Linked DNA regions of Homo sapiens. Changing the gene in region 1 together with any one later gene gives a genetic interaction. Each region holds a gene or a part of one and is shown on either strand. Other genes may lie near its edges.

Region 1 (3,252 bases):
ACCTCTGCCTCACAAAGTGCTGGGATTATAGGTGTGAGCCACCGCGCCTGGGCCCCCACTTTTTTTTTTTTGTAGAGATAGCATCTTGCTATTTTACTCAGGCTGGTCTCAAACTACCGGGCTCAAGCCATCCTCCCACCTCAGTCTCCCAAAGTGCTGGGAGTATAGATGTGAGTCACTGCACCCAACCTTTTTCTTTGTTTTTGAGACAGGGTCTCACTCTGTTGCTCAGGCTCTGTACAGTGGTGCAGTCATGGCTCGCAGCAGCCTCAACCTCCCAGGATCAAGCCATCCTCCCACCTGAGCCTCCCAAGTGGCTGGGACCACAAGCATGTGCTACCATGCCCAGCTAATTAAAAATTTTTTTTTTTTTTTTTTTTAGAAATGGGGGTCTTGCTATCTTGCCCAGTCTGGTCTCAAACTCTTGGATTCAGGGGATTCTCCTGCCTTGGCCCCACAAAGTGCTGGAATTATAGGCGGGAGCCACCGCACCTGGCCGTGCCTGATTTCTTAAAGTTCAGTTCCAGGGCCGGGCGAGGTGGCTCACGCTTATAATCCCAGCAGTTTGGGAGGCTGAGGCGGGTGGATGTCTTGAGGCTAGGAGTTTGAGACCAGCCTGGCCAACATAGTAAAAACCCCATCTCTACTAAAAATATAAAAATTAGCCGGGCTGGGCGCAGTGGCTTGCGTCTGTATTCCCAGCACTTTGGGAGGCCGAGGCAGGCGGATCACCTGAGGTTAGGAGTTCGAAACCAGCCTGGCCAACATGGTGAAACTCCATCTCTACTAAAAATACAAAAATTCGGCTGGGCCTGGTGGCTCACACCTGTAATCCTAGCACTTTGGCAGGCTGCGGCAGGTGGATTGCCTGAGGTCAGGAGTTCGAGACCAGCCTGGCGAAACCCCGTCTCTACTAAAAATACAAAAATTTAGCTGGGCATGGTGGTGGATGCCTATAATCCCAGCTACTCTGGAGGAGAATCACTTGAACCCAGGGGGCGGAGGTTGCAGTGAGCTGAGATCGCACCACTTCACTCCAGCCTGGGTGAAAGAGTGAAACTCCATCTCAAGAAAAAAAAAAATTAGCCAGGTGTAGTGGCATGTGCCTGTAGTCCCAGCTACTCAGGAGGCTGAGGCAGAATTGGTTGAACCCGGGAGGCAGAGGTTGCAGTGAGCCGAGATCATGCCACTGCACTCCAGCCTGGGTGACAGAGTTAGATTCCGTCTCAAAAAAAAAAAAAAAAAAATTTAGCCAGGCGTGGTGGCACATGCTTGTAATTCTAGCTACTCAGGAGGCTGAGGCACGAGAATCACCTGAACCCTGGGGGTGGAGGTTGCAGTGAGCCGAGATTGCACCACTGCACTCCAGCCTAAGTGACAGAGCGAGACTGTCTCAAAAAAAAAAAAAAGTTCAGTTCCAGGGTGTGTGCTAGGGAGAAGCTGGCTGTGGAGGGGCACAGACCCTGGAGCTGGTCCCTGGCTGTTGCCACTCCCCTAGAGGGACAAGTAGCAGCTGCAGGAGGGCCCTGCATGTGCAGGGCTGTAGTGCAGACTTCACCCTGCCGTTCCCAGGTCCTCCCTGAGGCGGGGGCCGGAGAGGACAGTCCTGGGAGAAACATGGACACTGCACTTGAAGAGCTTCAGTTGCCCCCAAATGCCGAAGGCCACGTAAAACAGGTAAGACTGAGTGCAAAGGTGGTCTGTGGTTGGACACAAGATGACTTGCTCCAAACAAAATGGAAACCAGTGAGCACCCACCATGAGACCTGTGTGGCCGAGGCAGGGTGTGCAGCCTGGGTTTCAGAGCTCCCCAGTCAAATTCTCCACCATGGTGTGGGCACATCTGGATTTTGGGGGAGCAGCCCGGAGTGTCTAGCTGCCCTGGGGTTGTGCTGTGTGCGTGTCTGGTGGCCTGCTCACCATGGCCCGCCTTCCTGCTGGTGATGCAGCTCTAGGCTCTCACTCCCCTGTCCTCAGGTCTCGCCACGGAGGCCGCAAGCAACAGAGGCTGTTGGCCGGCCGACTGGCCCTGCAGGCCTGAGAAGGACCCCCAACAAGCAGCCATCTGATCACAGCTATGCCCTTTTGGACTTAGATTCCCTGAAGAAAAAACTCTTCCTCACTCTGAAGGAAAATGAAAAGCTCCGGAAGCGCTTGCAGGCCCAGAGGCTGGTGATGCGAAGGATGTCCAGCCGCCTCCGTGCTTGCAAAGGGCACCAGGGACTCCAGGCCAGACTTGGGCCAGAGCAGCAGAGCTGAGCCCCACAGGCTCCGGACGCAGAGGTGGCAGTGGCACCAGGGCCGGCAGAGCTTTGGAGCTCTGGCTGTGGACATTTTTGTCTGCTGTGGACACTGAGAAAGTTGGCCATGAGGCCTGCTTGGCCGGGGATCGAGACAGTAGCCAAGCTCCCCGGCGAGAGCCCCAATGCCGTCTGGGGGACGTTTAGAGGCGTGGCACTAGGAGTGCACATCTGTGAGCATGACAAGCTTATCCTCCCATGGTAACAGAAGTCCAGGCTGAGGCTGATTCTGGACGCTGTCCTTTCAGCACACGCAGAGCAAAGATCGTTGGAAGCCCCAGTGTGGGAGATGCTCCTCAGGGAGGAAGCCATGTGAGGGGGCTGGCTCTGTGGCGGGTGAGTGGTCCCCTCCTCCATCAGCCTGGACAGCCGCTCGGGGTTCTAAGGAGTGACTCCTGTCCCGGCCTGGTGTGAGTGGGCAGTGTAATAAAGTGTCTTTCTATACGGTGTCGCTCCCATCATCATTTTCTCTAGTGCCGTGATTCCTTCTAAGAAGACTGACTTCCGTGGCCGGGCGCAGTGGCTCATGCCTGTAATCCCAGCACTTTGAGAGGCCGAGGTGGGGAGATCACTTGAGGTCAGGAGTTCAAGACCAGCCTGGCCAACATGGTGAAATCCCATGTCTACTAAAAAAGACACAAATTAGCCAGGCGTGGTGGCACACACCTGTAGTCCCAGCTACCTGGGAGGCTGAGACAGGAGGATCAGCTGAACCCGGGAGGTGGAGGTTGCAGTGAGCCGAGATCACACCACTGCCCTCTAGTATTGTCACTGGGTGACAGAGCGAGACTCAGTCTGAAAAAAAAAACTGACTTCCTATTTTGTCTAATTTATAGCTTTAGTGAATTAAAGAAAAAAGTTCTAGCCTGATTTCCTAACTTGGGGTCTATTTATTTCTCAGGCAATGTTGTTTAATGTAGAAAATGGAACCCCAGCTTCACGTGAAGCCTTG
Region 2 (3,654 bases), on another chromosome or scaffold:
AATGTTAACATATCTTATTATAAAATACCCAAAAATACCACATTCCTTACTATCACCATCAGTCTCATCAGAAAATTCTAACTTATGGGAAACTCAGGCACACAAGTGGTAGGTACAAGTTTTCTAAAATTCTAATTTTTGCTAGAAAACTCGCATTTTATCATTAGTAACAAATACTGTTGGTTGTTTTTAATGAAGTGATAGGCCTACTTTGTTCATTTTTGAGAAAAACATCTGCCAAATACCCAACACTGAATAACTGTTATTTATGTTAGTCATTTTTTTTTTTTTTAGAAGAAAGAAGGTTCTATGAAAAAGCAGCCAGTTTAGCTTGTAATTTGTTCATACAGGTGTTACCTAGAGACAACCATTCTACTTTGGAATGCAGCAGAGAACACAAAATGTTCTTCCCATTTGTCACACAGAATATTAAAGTGTTTTGGACTTGACGGATTTAGTAAAATTTGTAATTTTTACTGCTTCATTAAGGGCATTCTTCCTTTTTTTCCACTGTAAGAGCCACCGCCTTCCTTCTTAGATGCCAGGTTTCCCAATCACTGCTTTGGCACAATCAGTGCAAATGTCAACACATTTTTTTTTTTTTAATAAAAAAGCACATAACTGACTCTTAGCATTGTTACGAAAATAGTTTTAACCTCATGAACCCTCTGAAAGGTTCTTGAGGACCCCCTAGGAATCCACAGACCACAATTTAAGAACTGCTGATCTAAGTGAAGAAACGAATGCAGCATATGTTTCTAATTTGTCTATATAATGCAAGTGCAGTTTTTAAAGGAAGTTGGAACAATAAGACAACACAAAAGGGACAGTTTGTCCTGTCTTACAGCCCCTCCTAGGACCATACACAGAGGAGCCTTTTCAGATTGGCTAAAGGGTCTGTTCTTGCCTTTAGGGAAGCTATTGCGATTGCCAAGGCCCGGCTGCGCCCGGAGGACCCAGTCCTGAAGGACTTGTACCTCAGCTGGGGAACCGTCCTAGAAAGAGATGGCCACTATGCTGTAGCTGCCAAATGGTAAGCCTGAGGAGTGGAGGGATGCTTCCAACATAGGAGAGCTTCTGCCAGGAAGGGGAGGACAAGAATACAAGTAATAAGTTTAGAGGTGGAGGTAAAGCAGCAAGGAATTATTTAAAAGATATGTATATTCAACTTAGTTTCATAAGACTCATCAGGAACTACTTCCTGATTTATTTATATAAATCACTATAACTATTCAAGAAAAACCTCAGCAGCAGATTAAGAAATTATGCATTTTTCTAATGGTCTCTTATAACATCAAATAAAGGAACCTCAACCCATGCTGGATTGAACCCAACAGAGGAGTCATTCCCTCTCATTTTCCTTATGTCCTTAACCTATATGATATTGTTTCTCATACACTCTGCTGAGTTGTGTTGGCCTCAGCCTTCACAGGAACAACCGGGGCAGTGACATACCTGGGACCACAGGAAGGCACATGCAGCAAAGTAGATAGAAAGAAATGATTCCATCCTCTAGGAATGGGAATAAAAATCTGTTTGTGACATTTTCTTCACATTTTTATTCATATTATAGCTATTTAGGGGCCACTTGTGCTTATGATGCAGCCAAAGTTTTGGCCAAAAAGGGGGATGCGGCATCACTTAGAACGGCTGCAGAGTTGGCTGCCATCGTAGGAGAGGATGAGTTGTCTGCTTCCCTGGCTCTCAGATGTGCCCAAGAGCTGCTTCTGGCCAACAACTGGGTGGGAGCCCAGGAAGCCCTGCAGCTGCATGAAAGTCTACAGGTCAGTCTGTTATTTCATCTCCTAGTATACAAGAGGGAAGTGTCCCAAATCCTTTTCTAGTCAAATCCAAGTTAATAACCCAGTTGCACAAGCTGTGCCAATTTGGCAGGCCCAGCAAGCCCTGGCCATGCTATCCCACTGAAGTACTATGACTTGTTAGTTGCCGTATTCAGAGTAAGAGATAATATGGTCATTCACAGTAATTCCCATTGCTTATCTGTTTGTACAAAACACCTGTGAGCCGGGCACAGTGGCTCATGCCTGTAATCCCAGCACTTTGGGAGGCCGAGGCAGGCAGATCACTTGAGGTCAGGAGTTTGAGACAAGCCTGGACAACATGGTGAAACCCCGTTTCAACTAAAAATACAAAAATTAGCCGAGCGTGGTGGCACGCTTCTGTAATCCTAGCTTACTTGGGAGGCTGAGGCAGGAGAATCACTTGAACCCGGAAGGCGGAGGTTGCAGCGAGCCAAGATCCAGCCTGGGCAACATAGTGGGACTCTGTCTCAAAAAAAAAAAAAAAAACACAAAAAAAAACACCTTAGTCAGCCCAGGCCTTGGGTTGGCAGTCTAGGGTTTCTTCATTGATGTTATCAGCACTGTCTTCCTTGAAGAGAGAATGGTTGGCCTCTAACAGAAATCATGGAACTCTACCTGTAAATGCCCCTCTTAACTGTAAGCTATGGAAAAAAAACTGGGCCAGATGCAGCAGATCGCTTGAGATTAGGAGTTCAAGACCAGCCTGGCCAACATGGCGAAATCTTGTCTCTACTAAAAATAAAAAAATTAGCCAGGCATGGTGGCACACATCTGTAATTTGGCTACTTGAGAGGCTAAGGCAGGAGAATTGCTTGAACCCAGGAGGCAGAGGTTGCAATGAACCAAGATTGTGTCACTGCACTGCAGCCTACGTGACAGAGTGAGACTCTTCAGAAAAAAAAGAGAAAAGTGTGGGAAAATGGAAATCTCTTTATTTCTTAAATTTTTTTGTTCCCATCTGATTAAAAATCAGTAACATACCACTGCCTTTTTGACACATCAAAACAGATTAAAGCATTGGCACACTTACCTAGTTTCTGAAACATGTAAACATTTGATTCACTTTAGATAACTTTGTGAGATACTAACAAGAGGTTTTTTAAGTTCTTCATTCTCTAACAGAGTACAGGGCCTACAGATGGTTTTTAGCTGAATATTTAGAGCCCAAGGAACGTGGTACATGGGGAGGTAGCTTTCTAGGAACAGCAGAATAAAAATGGAGGTGAAAATAGGACACCCTAAAAGATAATGCCACTGGGCATTATTTATAAAATGACCAAGTCTAGAAAGATTTTAATTTATCCACCATCAAAAAAAGTTTCCAGAATGACTGTTTAGCATTTTATTTTTCTCTTAAACAGCATCCTTAACAAAGCAAAAAAACCTAATAAGCATATGCTAAATATTCTGATAAGGGCTATTTTGGTTTTGTGCAACAGAGACTCTTGCAAGCTTAACTGAGAAGATATTGTTATAGGAGTACACAAGGAATCTCATGGCAACTAAAAATCTAGTGAAAGTAGATTTTCTAGGCCTTCTCTGTGCTTCTGTTTTCTTCTCTCCCAGCCAGCTTCCTCTATTAAACCTATTTGGACATGGCTCCTAATGCCTGTCCCAGCTCTTGGATCTGCAAAGCTTGTCTATTCCAGCACCTTTGGCCCATTATGCTTTTATTCCTGAGTCCAAAGTTTGGTCAGGGAGAAAGAACCTGATGAGCCCAGCCCTTCTTTTCCTCAAACTAGGCTACAAGGCTTAAGTGGCTGGTCTGTGTGTGGCTTAAATCATTGTGGGTAGTGCTACAGTTGGGATTCTGTGTTATAAAAATGGTTTC
Region 3 (3,654 bases), on another chromosome or scaffold:
AGCTGTCTCAGAAAACTCCTCCAGTAAGTTCTGTTTGTTCTTTAATGGTATTCTTCAGTCATATATTTCCTCACTGATGGTGTAATTTTGTAGATAAGCGTCCATTTTTCAATAGATACATGATATTTTGTGTGTGCCTGGTATAGTATCACTAAAGTTAATATCCTTTAATCGTTTTCCTAGTTGACATCTATTAGTTTCTCTTAAATTATTTGAATCTCATTTATTAATATTTAAATATGTATAGTCTGCTAGGCACTAGTCCCTGCACACCAAGGGCTCAGTCTACTAGGATGGTTAGACATGCAGAAAATGATGACTGTAACATGCTCAACAATTCAGTATGTCATGAACGAGGTGCTGTTGGGAACACCAAGAAGCCACTACTTAACTCTCTAGGAGTATCAGAGGATAGCCTCCTGAAGAAGCTATAGTTTGAATGAATAGTTCAACTCATTGCTAATTTATGAAAGGATATCTAGATGGAGGGAATAAAACCATTTACAAAAATACTAAGAGAAGACAGGTATGTTCCAGTAATTCAAAGTAGTTGGCTTCTAGTCTTTACGTAAGTGGGGAAAGCAATATGGCTAGAAAGATGGATTAGTTTCCTAGAGCTGCCGTAACAAAGTACATGTTAGTGGCTTCAAACAACAGAAATTTGTTGTCTTATAGTTCTTGAGGCTAGAAGCCTCAAGGTGTCAGTGGAGCTATGCTGAATCTCTAGGGGAAAATACCTCCTTCTTCACAGGATAAAATCTAGCAGTGGACTGATGAGCTCATGTTTGTTTTAAAAAGATCAGTGGGTATATTATAATAACTTTTAAAAGAATAGAAAAACTCGGTTTGAGAAGGTAATTTATATAGTACTTCGGTAACAGAATGACAGTTATAATCTTTTAACTTTAAAATTTCTATCAGCTGGGCGTGGTGGCTCACGCCTATAATCCCAGCACTTTGGGAGGCCGAGGCAGATGGATTATGAGGTCAGGGAGACCAGCCTGGCCAACATGGTGAAACCCCATCTCTACTAAGAATACAAAAATTAGCTGGGCCTGGTGGCGGGAGCCTCTTAATTCCAGCTACTCGGGAGGCTGAGGCAGGAGAATTGCTTGAACCCGGGAGGTGGAGGTTGCAGTGAACTGAGATCACACCACTGCATTCCAACAGAGCAAGACTCCATCTCAAAAAAAAAAAAAAATAACAAAAATTAGCCGGACACGGTGGCACGTGCCTGTAATCCCAGCTACTTGGGAGGCTGAGACAGCAGAATCGCTTGAACCCAGGAGGCGGAGGTTGCAGTAAGCCGAGATCATGCCACTGCATTCCAGTCTGGGTGACAAAGCAAGACTCTGGCTCAGGAAAAAAAAACAACAACAACAAAACTTCAAGTGCTTTTTTTGTAAGGTGTTCTGCACTGAAGATTACATTTAAAAAACCTTATTAGTGGTTACATATGCCCTAACAATATCTATAAATCTGTATATTTAATAGTCTTTTAGCTTCCCATATAAAATAATGTTTTACGTGTGCCACATTTCTATTATTAAAAGTGATATCTAAATATATAGGCACACAGTTGACATCTGCCTTGTATTTTCTAAATTCTTGGAGATCTAGAGCATACCTGAATTATAATACTAATCATTAGATTGATTGATTGATTGGAGATTTATTTATTTATTTATTTACTTGAGATGGAGTCTTGCTCTTGTCCCCTAGGCTGGAGTGCAGTGGCACGATATCAGCTCACTGTAACCTCCGCCTCCTGGGTTCAAGTGATTCTCCTACCTCAGCTTCCCAAGTAGCTGGGATTACAGGCATGTTCCACCACACCCGGCTAATTTTTTATTTTTAGTAGAGATGCAGTTTCTCCGTGCTGGTCAGGCTGATCTCAAACTCCCGACCTCAGGTGATCCACCCGCCTCGGCCTCCCAAAGTGCTGGGATTATAGGCGTGAGCCACTGCACCGGTCTATAATACTAATGATTAGATTTCATAGAAAGTCCCTGAATAATGAATACAGATAAGCATGGCCCAAGCTGTGGTCAAGGCCAGTTAGAAACTATCCTTGTCCTTTAGGAGGTGATAACAATCTCTGAAAGAACAGGAAAAAAATTCTATTTAATAGTTACCAATCTTTCTTACCTACAAAAACCCATGTTTACCCTATCCCCAGTACCTTCTACCCACCCATATCCCATACTCTACCCACCCTTGCTGCACACATACTTATTTCACTTTGAAAAGCCCCAAAAATATGTTCATTTATAGAATAATAGGAAGATGTCAACAACTTGAGAACTGTCCCCAGAGGCAGATTCCTTGGTAAGAGAAAGAAAAAAACCTCTTCATATAGGAAGTGAGATATAGGGGATAGTACTGTGCAATAAAATTGTGTTATCAAGAGAAAATGAGAGTCAGAACAGAAGCACTAATTTGGAAGGAAATAGTATGAATAAAAAACTAACCTGATATCTGATGGTTGTGTTTTTATTTAGAAGGGTTGGGGTGAACTAAGGAGGGATTAGGATAGCATGAAAGCCTAGAAAGGAAGCAGTTAGAAGGTTGGGGAGGACTACAGAAAGGGAGACAGATTGGGATGATAATTAGGTTGGTGTTGGATGAAATGAAATAATAAAGACTTAGCACAGCACCAGATTTATAGTGTTAGGTGTGGATTTGCTATTTTAGGATAGAAATTGTGAATGCTATACTTCAGTATGCAGCTTTTTAAAGTTTGTATGTTTTCTCATCATATAATCGCATGTTAAAAGCCATAATCAAAGTACTTTTAAAAGTCTGTACATTAGTCTAACCTATGCTTGTTATCTTGGCTATTTCAAAATTACCGTATTTTAATCAGTGTTTGAACCACAGGGAGCCATTATGAAGTCTGTCAAAATTGAATTTCCTGGCTGGGTGCAAGTGGCTCATGCATGTAATCCCAGCACTTTGGGAGGCTGAGATGGGCCGATTGCTTGAGTGCAAATGTGAAGACCAGCCTGGACAATATGGCGAGGAAGACCCTGTCTCTATTTGAAAAAAAAAAAAAAAAAAAGAATTTTCTAAGTTGAGTCACAAGATTTGATTGTACTAATGCATATTCTTCTATTTCAGAGTATGCGGTTGAAATTGATTGCAAATAATACAACAGTGGAACGGAGGTTTAGCTCATGGATTGGCGGCTCCATTCTAGCCTCTTTGGTTAGTAGATGAGCTACTTTGCAAAAATATTCTTACTGAATTATACTAAATTTAGTAAAAATACAAAAAATAATTCCAGTGCTTCATTTGTCTGTGCATTTTATAACTGTCAAATGAGTGGAAGACCTAATGGAATAACCAGTTTTATGTGTTCTGATGTAACAAAATGCCTCTGCCTAATTAGTGGACATTTGTCAGCCTAATTTCAATGTCCCCTCTCAAACAGAGGTGGAAATATGTTAATGTATGCATGCCTTTTCTAATAATACCCCCATTGGCACTGGTCAGGGCTTGTCTGGAGTGCATTTAAAATGAAAACATTGCTTCTCAAGTTCTGGTCATTCCCCAGTCTGCAGTGAGATCTACAGTGAGGTCTAGGAAGTCAGGAATTGGTCTTGGAGCAAATGGTGAAGTCATGGTGCGGGGTGTAAGATGTTGCTTGGACTA

Evidence for each region.
Region 2: changes in THAP3 (region 1) and GEMIN5 together harm fitness more than expected from each alone (negative genetic interaction), as found in Homo sapiens cells (one large-scale study listed by BioGRID).
Region 3: changes in THAP3 (region 1) and ACTL6A together harm fitness more than expected from each alone (negative genetic interaction), as found in Homo sapiens cells (one large-scale study listed by BioGRID).

What each region holds. Positions count from the first base shown.
Region 1 is NC_000001.11:6,630,819-6,634,070, forward strand, and holds the end of THAP3 (THAP domain-containing protein 3), read left to right. Parts: intron 1-1,551; coding exon of another isoform or gene 1,552-1,572; coding exon 1,573-1,677; intron 1,678-1,977; coding exon 1,978-2,259; 3' UTR 2,260-2,744; downstream 2,745-3,252. UniProt on the Homo sapiens protein: Component of a THAP1/THAP3-HCFC1-OGT complex that is required for the regulation of the transcriptional activity of RRM1.
Region 2 is NC_000005.10:154,896,570-154,900,223, reverse strand, and holds part of GEMIN5 (gem-associated protein 5), read left to right. Parts: intron 1-913; coding exon 914-1,033; intron 1,034-1,573; coding exon 1,574-1,784; intron 1,785-3,654. UniProt on the Homo sapiens protein: The SMN complex catalyzes the assembly of small nuclear ribonucleoproteins (snRNPs), the building blocks of the spliceosome, and thereby plays an important role in the splicing of cellular pre-mRNAs.
Region 3 is NC_000003.12:179,583,426-179,587,079, forward strand, and holds part of ACTL6A (actin-like protein 6A), read left to right. Parts: coding exon 1-23; intron 24-3,120; coding exon 3,121-3,207; intron 3,208-3,654.